3 linked regions of the Homo sapiens genome follow. The protein of the gene in region 1 purifies or fractionates together with the protein of each later gene. This does not show direct contact. Each region holds a gene or a part of one and is shown in the gene's direction. Other genes may lie near its edges. The genes, in order: FN3KRP, UBE3C and DOHH.

Region 1 (3,746 bases):
GGGGAGGAGCATACAGGGAGTGGTTCACCCACTCCACCGCCTTTGGAGCACCTTTTAATTCTCTCACTCTTCTCTAATGTGTTCCTTGATTTATCTATTACCATCTGCGGATTTTCATCTGTTCTTTTTTGCCTTTTTTTTTTTTGAGACGGAGTTTTGCTCTTGTCACCCAGGCTGGAGTGCAATGGCGGGATCTCAGCTCACTGCAACCTCCGCCTCCCGGGTTCAAGCGATTCTCCTGCCTCAGCCTCCCGAGTATCTGGGATTACAAGCGCCCGCCACCACGCCCCGCTAATCTTTTTTGCTTTTTAAAATTATGAAATGCGGTATACACACAGAAAAGTGCGTGAACACACACATATGTACCATTTAATAGATAGTTATAAAATGATCCGCCCGCCTCAGCCTCCCAAAGTGCTGGGATTACAGGCGTGAGCCACCGCTTCCGGCCTCAGGAGAGGATTCGTGTTTGCTTCTCCCAACGTCCAGGGAAGCGACATTTCCTATTTGCTTTAGACTAAAATCTATACTTGAATTTTTTGTTTACTGTAGGTAATATTAACTAGGGTTGCAGTCCGTGGAGGGCCGACTATGCGAACGGTTTCTATGAACCATCCTTTGCTGAAGGCTGAAACCTCTTCGTCCCCTGGGAGAGTTCCTATTCAGGCCTTCTTGTAGTTAGTTCATCCTTGTGTTGACAGCTGTATTAGGGTTCTCCAGAGAGACGGATCCAGTAGGATATAGACGTAGATCCAGGACAGGAGATGGACTGGGGGAGCTGGCGTTTGCAATTACGGAGGCCGAGAAGTCTGTGAGCCGGAGACCCCGGGACTCGGGTAGCCGGGCTCAGCCCAGGTCGGAAGGCCTCAGAAGCGGGGAAGCGGATGGTGTGGCCCTCAGCACGACCCACCCCAAATCATGCCTTGCCAGGTTTCTGGGAATTCCTGGTCCAGCCCAGCTGGCACCTGACACTGGCCGTAACGGCAGGGCCACTGTTAGCTGTTAGCCTCAGGGCCCCAGGTTTAGGGGCGGTGTCTCCGTTGCACGTGCACCCCGAGCGCGCCCGCCACTCCCCACATCAGGAGCTCTGTTCCTCGGGTTCAGCAAACGCCCGGGCGAAAGCAATCTTAACATTCTGGGCTCCCGGCACCCAGACCTTGGGCTGATGCCCCTTGCTAGTGGGTCAGCTCTTTAGAAAATATATTCTAACTATTTCCATCAGCATTTCCACTTATTTTGTGCAGGAGAGTTGAACCCAAACCGTCTGGGTCGGGGTCGGTCAGGCCCCGCCCCCTGACGTCATCTCACCCCCACCCAATCCCCCGCGCCTACCTGCCTCCCGGCCCCTCCCCTTCCCGCCCCTCAATCCCAGCGCTCATCTCTGCGGCCACGCCCGCCCCTTCCCGCCACCCAATCCTAGCGCTTGTCTCTGCGGCCGGGCCCCGCCCCCACCCGCCCCCCGCCCAATCCTCGCGCGGACTCATGTTTGCCCGCTCGGCCGCCGTCTCTCGAGTCTCCGCCAGATCCGGGGCGGGTCCGCGGCCGCGGCGGGAACATGGAGGAGCTCCTGAGGCGCGAGCTGGGCTGCAGCTCTGTCAGGGCCACGGGCCACTCGGGGGGCGGGTGCATCAGCCAGGGCCGGAGCTACGACACGGATCAAGGACGAGTGTTCGTGAAAGTGAACCCCAAGGCGGAGGTCAGGCAGCGGGTCGGGCGGGCCGGGGGACCGGTTTCTTTCCGGAGAGGGTCGCGGGCCTCGGCGCGGGGCGCGGCCTGGGCTTCTCCCGCCGGAGGCCGTGGGTGGCTCTCCCGGGACTGCCGCCGCCGCCCCTTGCGGGGAACCCTTTGCGCGGGGCGAGCGGTGAACGGGGGCGGCGGAAGCGTCCGGGGCGTCCGGAGGAGTTTGCACCTGCGGGGAACTGTCCGGAGCAGGAACCGCGGCCGCCCCACACCTCCTGTTCTCCGTGAACTTTCTCTCGGGGGCGCTACGTGAAATGGGGCGGGACTGGCTGCTGCAGTCTTGCTCCCGGGGTTCCTGCCCTGCGGTGCTGGTTAAGTGGGGTCGTTCTAGCCGGGGAAGCTGCTTAAGTCCTCAGCTTAAGTGACTCTGGAGGTGTCCATCCCCCGTGAGCCTCGGTCAGTACGTTGTGAAACGGGGCGAAGGTGCTGCCCCCAGGCCAGCTGCTGCGCCTCACCACACCCTGGCATGCTCTGTCCTTCTGTTAGACTCATTCTCGGGCCGGGCGCGGTGGCTCACGCCTGTAATCCCAGCACTTTGGGAGACAGAGGTGGGTGGAGCGCGAAGTCAGGAGTTCGAGACCAGCCTGGCCAACAAGGTGAAACCCCCGTCTCTATTAAAAATACAAAAATTAGCTGGGCGTGGTGGCGGGCGCCTGTAATCCCAGCTACTCGGGAGGCTGAGGCAGAAGAATCGCTTGAACCCAGGAGGCAGAGGTTGCAGTGAGTCGAGATCGCGCCACTGCACTCCAGCCTGCTGGGTGACTGAATGAGACTCCGTCTCAAAAAAAAAAGAGTGTTCCTAGCAGCGGTGACATGGCAGCTGTGGTGGGGCTCTGAGGCTGAGGAGGTGGGGACTCTGAAGAACTGAAAGAAGGATGAAGACAGCTGGAAGTCAGGAGCACGAGGAGAGTGTGTGTGTCTATGTGTATGTTGTGTGTGTGTACGTTGTATGTGTGTATGTTTGTAATGTTTGTATGTTGTGTGTATGTATTGTGTGTCTGTGTGTGTGTAAGGGTGGAGCCCCAGGTGAGGATGGGAGAGTGGGCAGGGCAGTGGTGTGTGTCTCAGGAGAAAAAGAAAGGCCGCTGGCCCTGACCTGTTCTGCGGGGATCACTGCTGTGTATGTTGTGTGTGTGTGTCTGTGTGTTGTGTGTGTATGGTGTGTCTGTAAGTCGTATGTTGTGTGTGTTGTGTGTCTGTATGTGTTGTGTGTGTGTTGTGTGTCTGTATATGTTGTGTGTGTGTGTTATGTGTCTGTGTGTGTAAGGGTGGAGCCCCAGATGAGGATGGGAGAGCAGGCAGGGCAGTGGTGTGTGTAGCAGGAGGAAAGGAAAGGCCGCTGGCTCTGACTTCTACTCTAGGGATCACTGCTGTGTGGTGAGCCAGGGGGACCCAAGGGAGGAGTTGCTGTGGTCCCGGGGAGTTGGATGGAAACGGCATCTCAAGATGAGGTGGTTTCCAGTGCTGGGCAGGAGGTGGCATGGAACTTGGTGGTCTCTTCAGGTGAAAAGTGACCCCAGGTCACTGGCATAGGCAGCCAGGGTGCCGCCTGCACCTGAGAGGTCGGGTGAGTCTGTGTCCTGTAGGTGGAACAGGACTGCAGTTGAGGTGTCGTCTGAGGACACTGACAGGTAACCCATGTTCACAGTCCCACTGTTGCCGGATCTTAGTGGAATATTAGTGCCTTCGATTTTCCTCTCTCCAGAGAACCTCCCAATTCAACCACAGCACACAAGTGTAGTCCAACACTGGAAAGCTCAAGCCCTCTTCTTCCAGTACAGCCTCTGAACCTGTAGCCTACCCTGTTGGCAAGTGTGTTTGAAAACACTGTCCATGTGTATGGAATCCTCAGTCAGGATAGTCTTGGTTTGAAGTTGTAATGCTAGAGGAAAACATATCTACAGAACCTTCCGGAAGTAACCTTGCCTCCCTGTATTTCCACTTCCTCTCGTATTTTTCTGACAGGCCAGAAGAATGTTTGAAGGTGAGATGGCAAGTTTAACTGC
Region 2 (3,646 bases), on another chromosome or scaffold:
AGGGTGGGGGACATTGGACGAGGAGGAGGAGTGGTTCCCACAGGCACGCAATTTGAAAACCCTTGTTCTCAAGATCTAGACAGAGGTTAGGGATTGCCTCGGGTCTCACTGATGGTCAGTAATTCACCTAGCTCCCCTGAGTTATGTGTGAATCAGTGTCTTTTCCATTACAGTAAGTTGCAGACTTTATTTGCACATAAGTCTTTGAGACTGACCTGTTTTCAGAGGAATATTTGAGTCAGTGTTTATAGCAGAAAGAATGGTCAGCAGAGAACTAAGAGACCTGTGTCTCGTTTGTGCCCTGTCTGCAGGGCAGCATTGGCACATATCCTTGCCAATCCCAGTTTTTGTCATTAAAGTAAAAATGATGCATTCCTTTTGCTTGTTTCACAGGGGGTTTGAAGAGGACAAATAAGTTTTTGTTGGTTAATTACCCTGTCCCTTTTTTTTTTGGACCCAATATAAGAATTTTATGCATCCTGCAATATGTGTGCATAACTGATGATGTGTTGGTGGTGATGATTCTTGTCAGGGATAACAGTACAAGTACAAGGATTCTTGTCGGGGATAACAGTGGAAAGCAGGCTCATCAAGACGCAGGAGTGGGCTCCAGCTGTCATAGGCAGGGCTGTTGAAAGAAGCCACCCCTGTCCAGTTAAGGCAGCCCTGTGCCTTTTTTATCCTCCATATAAACAACCTTTTTGTGTCATCCTGGCTTTGGCAATGAGGTAGGACAATTGTGCTTTGTCCCTTTTTGAATGTCCCACAATGTTTAAATTTTGGAAGAATGGCATTCATTCATTGATGAATCTGTTCAGCATAGTGCTAAATGCAGAGTATCACAACTGCAAACATGGATCATGTATGCTCAGGTTGTGTAGCATGTGGACATAGTGTATCTTCTCTGTGGGAACACAGTTTCAGGTGCACATATGGGTTCCTTTTCTCAAAGCGGTTGATGATGGCAGTGCCCTCCCCTGAACCATGCACCATGGAGACTCAGAAGCTCCAGGTGGCTCAGCCAAGCTCCTTACGGCCCCGCTAATTAGAACAAGTGGCCTTACCTTCTGCTTTGCTTTCATACATGATTTGTAGATCCTGACTCCTGGTTACATCTCATCTAATATATACCTGTAGTTTTGTGGAAATGGATATTTGGGGAGATAAGAGAGTGATCTTGCTCACAGTGTCTGTTAACCTGTGATTGATTTGACTTGGTAGAGGGGACCATGGACTTTATAGAAAGAGCTTGCAGGTGAGCCTATTAGCTAAAAGTTCCATAAGACAAGGAACCAGACTTAAAAACGAGAGAAAAGGAAGAAGTTCTAGGTGAAATAAGTCAATTTAATATATCGTAGCTCTTTTTTATTTATTTATTTTTTTTGGAAACGGAGTCTCGCCCTGTTGCCCAGGCTGGAGTGCAATGGCACGATCTCGGCTCACTGCAACCTCCGCTGCTCGGGTTCAAGTGATTCCCCTGCCTCAGCCTCCCAAGTAGCTGGGATTACAGGCACGTGCCACCACACCCAGCTAATTTTTTGTATCTTTAGTAGAGATGGGGTTTCACCATGTTGGCCAGGCTGGTCTCGAACTCTTGACCTTGTGATCCACCCACCTCGGCCTCCCAGAGTGCTGGGATTACAGGCGTGAGCCACCATACCCAGCCTTTTTTCTTTTCTTTTTTTTTTTCCTTAATATTTTAAACTTCTTTGAAACAGAGTCTGGCTCTGTTCCCCAGGCTGGAGTGCAGTGGCGCAATCTCAGCTCATGGCAACCTCTGCCTCCTGGGCTCAAGCCATTCTCCTGCCTCAGCCTCCTATGTAACTAGGAAGGACTACAGGCACCTATCACCACACCTGGCTAATTAATTTAATATATCATAGCTCTTGATGGGTGAAAGGCTGCTGAGTAAAGACCACCTTAGCTGCTGTGAAAGCAGGAGCAGGATGGGAGCTGGTGAATAAAGTGGACAGTGGGAGCAAGGCCACCATAGAGAACTGGAAACTTTGTTTCTTGAGGTTCCAGTTTGGCTTCAATATTGAATAGCTTTCAACGTTACCAAAAGTTAAGTCGCTGGATAAATTTTTCCTGAGACCAGAATGATTTGCCTTTATTAAATATGTTGAGTAGAAGGGAAGGGGGATGGTTTCCTCATAAGAGTAAAGTACATGTGTGTCTTGAATAGTGGCCTTATTAGAGCTCTTCTTAGGGCCTTAGTCTGGGAACGACTGGCTTACTCTTAGTAACTTCATTATCTAGTTGGTACAGGTAGCAGAAACCTTAGTGAAGATTAATGGGTTGGTATGCTATTTTTTGTATTAATCTATGCTGTTTATTAACCTGCATTGCCATGGTGACTTTACCTTGCCTTTAAATAGTTTAATTCCTAATGCAAATGTTACTTTCCCTGATTATATTTGTTTGATGTTATGTTTTAATTAGTTCCCAAACTAAGACTAATTTTAAAGTGACTGGTTTTTTTCTTCTTTTCTTTAATTCAAGGTCTATGGTACCGTTGCTTCAGGTGATATCCAGGGGTTCTCCTATGTCTTTTGAAGATTCTAGTCGAATCATCCCACTCTTTTATCTTTTTAGCTCCTTGTTTAGTCATTCACTAATTTCCATACATGATAACGAATTCTTCGGTGATCCCATAGAAGGTAAGGATTTTGAGAAACCAGTTTGCTGCTGGCCACTTGGCCCATCAGTTTTCATAGACAGTAGAAAAGTTTTAAGCTTTTTAAGTCTTTCAGTGTGTGTTAAAAGATGGAAAAAGAAACAATAGAAAACTGGATTGTGTTTTTTAGTTGTAGGTCAAAGACAATCATCAATGATGCCTTTTACTTTAGAAGAGCTGATAATGTTGTCTCGATGCCTTCGAGATGCATGCCTGGGGATCATCAAGTTGGCTTATCCAGAAACCAAGCCAGAAGTTCGAGAAGAATATATTACAGCATTTCAGAGTATTGGAGTTACTACTAGCTCTGAAATGCAACAATGCATACAGATGGAACAGAAAAGATGGATTCAGTTATTTAAGGTATAGAGTATATGTATTTTTTTGTTTACTGACATTGAAAAATGTACAAACTTTTGTCTTGACTCGTTGCAGAGGAATAAAAATGCAGGTTTGTTTCAGACATGTTTTAATTTGCAAGACTTTTTTTTTTTTTTTTTTTTTTTTTTTTTTTTTTTTTGATACATGGACTTGATGTGTCTCCCAGGCTGGAGTGCAATGACACCATCATACTCCACTGCAGCCTTGAACTCCTGGGATCAAGCAATCCTCTCACCTCAGCCTCCTGAGTAGCTGGGGCTACTGGCACATGCCACCACACCCAGCTAATTTATTAGTTTTTTTGTAGAGACAGAGTCTCACTGTGTTACCCAGGCTGGTCTCAAATTCCTGGCCTCATGGATTCCTCCTGCTTCTGCCTCCCATAGTGCTGGGATTATAGGCGTGAGCCACTGCAGCTGGCCTATATACCTTTTTAATTAAGAAAAGTAATTTTAGTACTTTTGATTAATTAAGGTAATTTAATTAACTAAAATTACTTTCATTTTAATTTACATTTGCCTCACTTAAAACCATGTTTTTAAACCTTGTTACATGCATCTTTTCTATGTGGCCCTAACTACTTAACTG
Region 3 (3,646 bases), on another chromosome or scaffold:
TTCCAGGCAGTGCCTTGCTCTGGGGAGGGGATGCTGATTGGTCCAGCGGGGAGCCTGTACCGACTGCTGCTCCAATCAGCCGTGGACAGAGGCGGGGCTTCCCCACAGTGGCAGAGCCCTGGGAGGGGTGTCCTCCGGTCCCAGAGGTAGCCGGGCATTTTCCACACATCCACCCCACCAACATGAGCTCTCCGGCTGCTTCTTCCCAGGGGAGGCCCTGGGGGCCATCGGGGACCCGGAAGTTCTGGAGATCCTGAAGCAGTATTCCTCGGACCCCGTCATCGAGGTAACCAGGCCCCTGCTTGTCTCCCTGCCAGTCTCGGGTCCCTGGGAAGCCCTGCCCAGCCCTGCCCCAGCCCTGACCTGGAGCAGCCTCAGACCCTCCCCATCTCTGGTTGCCAGGGCGACCACTTGGCCAAGGATGCCCCAGGGATGAGGAAGGCGAGGGCGACAATCTGGACAGACACTTGCTGCGCCCCATTTGGCAAAACGGCGACAACCAGCTTTGCTCACCCGCTTCCATCCCGGGCCTTGAGCCCCTGAGCCGGCCTGACCCCCTTTCTCTGAACCCCCACGTCCAGTCCCTCTGCCAAGACCCCTCTGAACCCACCCAGTGCCCTCTACCTCTGATACCTTGTCCTGGCCCACCAGACCTCTTCAGAGATCTCCTGCTACCTTCCAACATTTCTTCTTTTTTTTTTTTGAGACGGTGTCTCGCTCTGTCGCCCAGGCTGGAGTGCAGTGGGCGCGATCTCGGCTCACTGCAAGCTCTGCTTCCCAGGTTCATGCTATTCTCCTGCCTCAGCCTCCAGAGTAGCTGGGACTACAGGCGCCTGCCACCACGCTCAGCAAATCTTTTCGTATTTTTAGTAGAGACGGGGTTTCACCATGTTAGCCAGGATGGTCTCGATCTCCTGACCTCGTGATCCACCCGCCTTGGCCTCCAAAGTGCTGGGATTACAGGCGTGAGCCACCGCGCCTGGCCCAAAAATGAAACAAATTTTTATTTTATTAGTTTTTTCTTTATAGAGATGAAGTCCCGCTCTGTCGCCCAGGCTGGTGTTGAACTCCTGGGCTCAAGCGATCCTCCTGCCTTGGTCTCCCTAACTGCTGGGATTAGGGGCATGAGCCGCTTCGGCCGGCCCGTCATTCCTTTTTGTGGCTGAGTCACGTTCCGTGGTGTGGACGGCCCATGCTGTGTCCACTCACTGTGGCTGGATGCTTGAATTGTCTCTGCTTTTTAGCTGTTATGAGTTATGCCGCCACGGACATGCATGTTCCTTTCTCCCCTGCCACTTCTTGTCCACATCCCACCCCGACCCTCAGTCTCTCCTCCTCCGGGGCAGCCGGGGGTACGTGTGACACTCAATTCTGCTGTTCTGTTCCATGCTTAAAGCTCTCACGATATCTCATCACCTTTAGGACAAAATCCCAAGCCCTTACAGTGGCCCGCAGGCCTTACCTGGTCAGGTGGGGCCGCACATGTTCCTTTGGCCCTCACCCCTCCCGCAGGGTCCTGCCTCAGGGCCTTTCCACCGCTGCTTCCCCATCCCCGGGTCTCCACCTGATTCCCTCCCTAAGCTGGCTTAGGTCTCTGCCTCCACATCACCTCCTCCCTGAGGCCCTCCCCAGCCCTCCAGTCCCCCGGTCACTCACAAGTCAGCCACCCCTGCTGGCTTACTTCCTGCCTGGAATGATGGGTTAGTCACCCTGCCAGTGTCTCTCTCCCCTGCTAAGCTGCCATCCCGGGGGGTGGGGAAGGGCCCCTGCGACCCCCCAGGGCCAACCCGCTGCCTGATACCCCCTCCCCGCAGGTGGCCGAGACCTGCCAGCTGGCCGTGCGCAGGCTGGAGTGGCTGCAGCAGCACGGCGGGGAGCCGGCGGCGGGACCCTACCTCTCCGTGGACCCTGCCCCGCCGGCTGAGGAGCGTGACGTGGGGCGCCTGCGGGAGGCGCTGCTGGATGAGTCCCGGCCGCTCTTCGAGCGATACCGCGCCATGTTCGCCCTGCGCAACGCGGGAGGCGAGGAGGCCGCCCTGGCGCTGGCCGAGGGTGAGGAGGGGCTTCTGGGGTGGGGTCCTGGGCAGTGCCTCGCTGTGAGGTTCAGTGATGGCATCTGTGCAGTGGGGCCGCGGCCTGCCCCCGGGAACGGCATCCCGGGCCTGGCCCCAAGCATTTCCCATGGGGCCTCTTAAGAACCCGTGCAAGCGTCCCTCTTGGTCCCCATAGCTCCCAGCTTTTCCCGCCCCCATAGCTGCGGTCAGTTCCCCCGGGCATCCCTAATCACTGGGGCTGGGGGCAGGGGTGTCTTCAAGGTAGAACACCCCAGGTTGGGCGTGGTGGCTCACGCCTGTCGTCCCAGCACTTTGGGAGGCCGGGATGGGAAGATCGCCAGGACTTTGTGACCTGCCTGGGCAAGATAGCAAGACCCCATGTCTTCGAAAAGACAGAGCTCCCCTTCCCACCCCTCCTGGCCCCAGCGAGTGTCCCTCTCCCCTGCAGGTCTGCACTGTGGGAGCGCCCTCTTCCGCCACGAGGTCGGCTACGTCCTGGGACAGCTGCAGCACGAGGCGGCGGTGCCCCAGCTGGCGGCCGCCCTGGCCCGATGCACCGAGAACCCCATGGTGCGGCACGAGTGCGCGGAGGCCCTGGGCGCCATTGCCCGGCCCGCCTGCCTGGCCGCGCTGCAGGCTCACGCGGACGACCCAGAGCGCGTGGTGCGTGAGAGCTGCGAGGTGGCTCTGGACATGTATGAGCACGAGACCGGGCGGGCCTTCCAGTACGCGGACGGCCTGGAGCAGCTGCGCGGGGCCCCCTCCTAGGGCCCCACCCTCACCCGGAGCTCCCGGAGGACTCTTGAGGGCCGCTCCTCCCCCGCAGAGCTTTGGCGTCTAAACCGGGTGTGTGTAAATCGGTGTCATCGCTTGTGTCTTGCTGGGCGCATGGTTGCTGTCCCCCTCCTCCGTCTGGGACCGAGGAGCTGCCGTTGTGCTGTGACTCCCTGAGTCCCCTGACTGCTCCTCGGGGCCTGGCGCAGGGCTGTAGCGTGGAAGTTTCCAGGCTTGGGGTGGGACTCTGCGGGAGGCTCTGGGATGCCCGGCTCAGGACAGGGGAGGATTGCGAGGGAAGCCAGGGGAGGATCGCGAGGGAAGCCAGGGGAGGATCGCGAGGGAAGCCAGGGGAGGATCGCGAGGGAAGCCAGGGGAGGATCGCGAGGGAAGCCAAGGGAGGATCGCGAGGGGAGCCAGGGGAGGATCGCGAGGGAAGCCAGGGGCAGAGCTGGGGCTCTGGGAAGAGGCTGACGTTATGGTGGCTTCAGCTTCACTAGGAATGGGACACAGGGTCTGGGGGCCTCTGACTCCCCCACCCCGAGGCCTGGGTAGGGACAGGGTGGTGGTCCCTGAGTGGGTCAGGTAGGGCACAGGGGCCAGGGAGGGACAAGCAGACCTCAGAGCGCTGCCCAGATGGAATATTAAATTATTTTTGCCAAGCACTGACTCCTCTGAGTGTGTTGGGTGAGGGGAGCGTGGGAGGGAGGGAGGGGTGGGGGCTTTCAGGGAACGTTCCCCGAGAGTGTGTGGCGTCTGGGCGGGGAGACGGTTGTATCCGCAGCCATTGGCTCTAGGATCTGTCCTGCTGCTGACAC

What was found.
Region 2: the proteins of FN3KRP (region 1) and UBE3C purify together in Homo sapiens (affinity purification with mass spectrometry; one large-scale study listed by BioGRID and IntAct). This does not show direct contact.
Region 3: the proteins of FN3KRP (region 1) and DOHH purify together in Homo sapiens (affinity purification with mass spectrometry; 2 studies listed by BioGRID and IntAct, with this or other methods). This does not show direct contact.

Annotation. Positions count from the first base shown.
Region 1 is NC_000017.11:82,715,201-82,718,946, forward strand, and holds the start of FN3KRP (ketosamine-3-kinase), read left to right. Parts: upstream 1-1,505; 5' UTR 1,506-1,555; coding exon 1,556-1,696; intron 1,697-3,243; exon of another isoform or gene 3,244-3,371; intron 3,372-3,705; coding exon 3,706-3,746.
Region 2 is NC_000007.14:157,204,896-157,208,541, forward strand, and holds part of UBE3C (ubiquitin-protein ligase E3C), read left to right. Parts: intron 1-2,502; coding exon 2,503-2,660; intron 2,661-2,807; coding exon 2,808-3,040; intron 3,041-3,646. UniProt on the Homo sapiens protein: E3 ubiquitin-protein ligase that specifically catalyzes 'Lys-29'- and 'Lys-48'-linked polyubiquitin chains.
Region 3 is NC_000019.10:3,490,668-3,494,313, reverse strand, and holds the end of DOHH (deoxyhypusine hydroxylase), read left to right. Parts: intron 1-209; coding exon 210-286; intron 287-402; coding exon of another isoform or gene 403-543; exon of another isoform or gene 544-1,799; intron 1,800-1,814; coding exon 1,815-2,052; intron 2,053-2,502; coding exon 2,503-2,822; 3' UTR 2,823-3,490; downstream 3,491-3,646. UniProt on the Homo sapiens protein: Catalyzes the hydroxylation of the N(6)-(4-aminobutyl)-L-lysine intermediate produced by deoxyhypusine synthase/DHPS on a critical lysine of the eukaryotic translation initiation factor 5A/eIF-5A.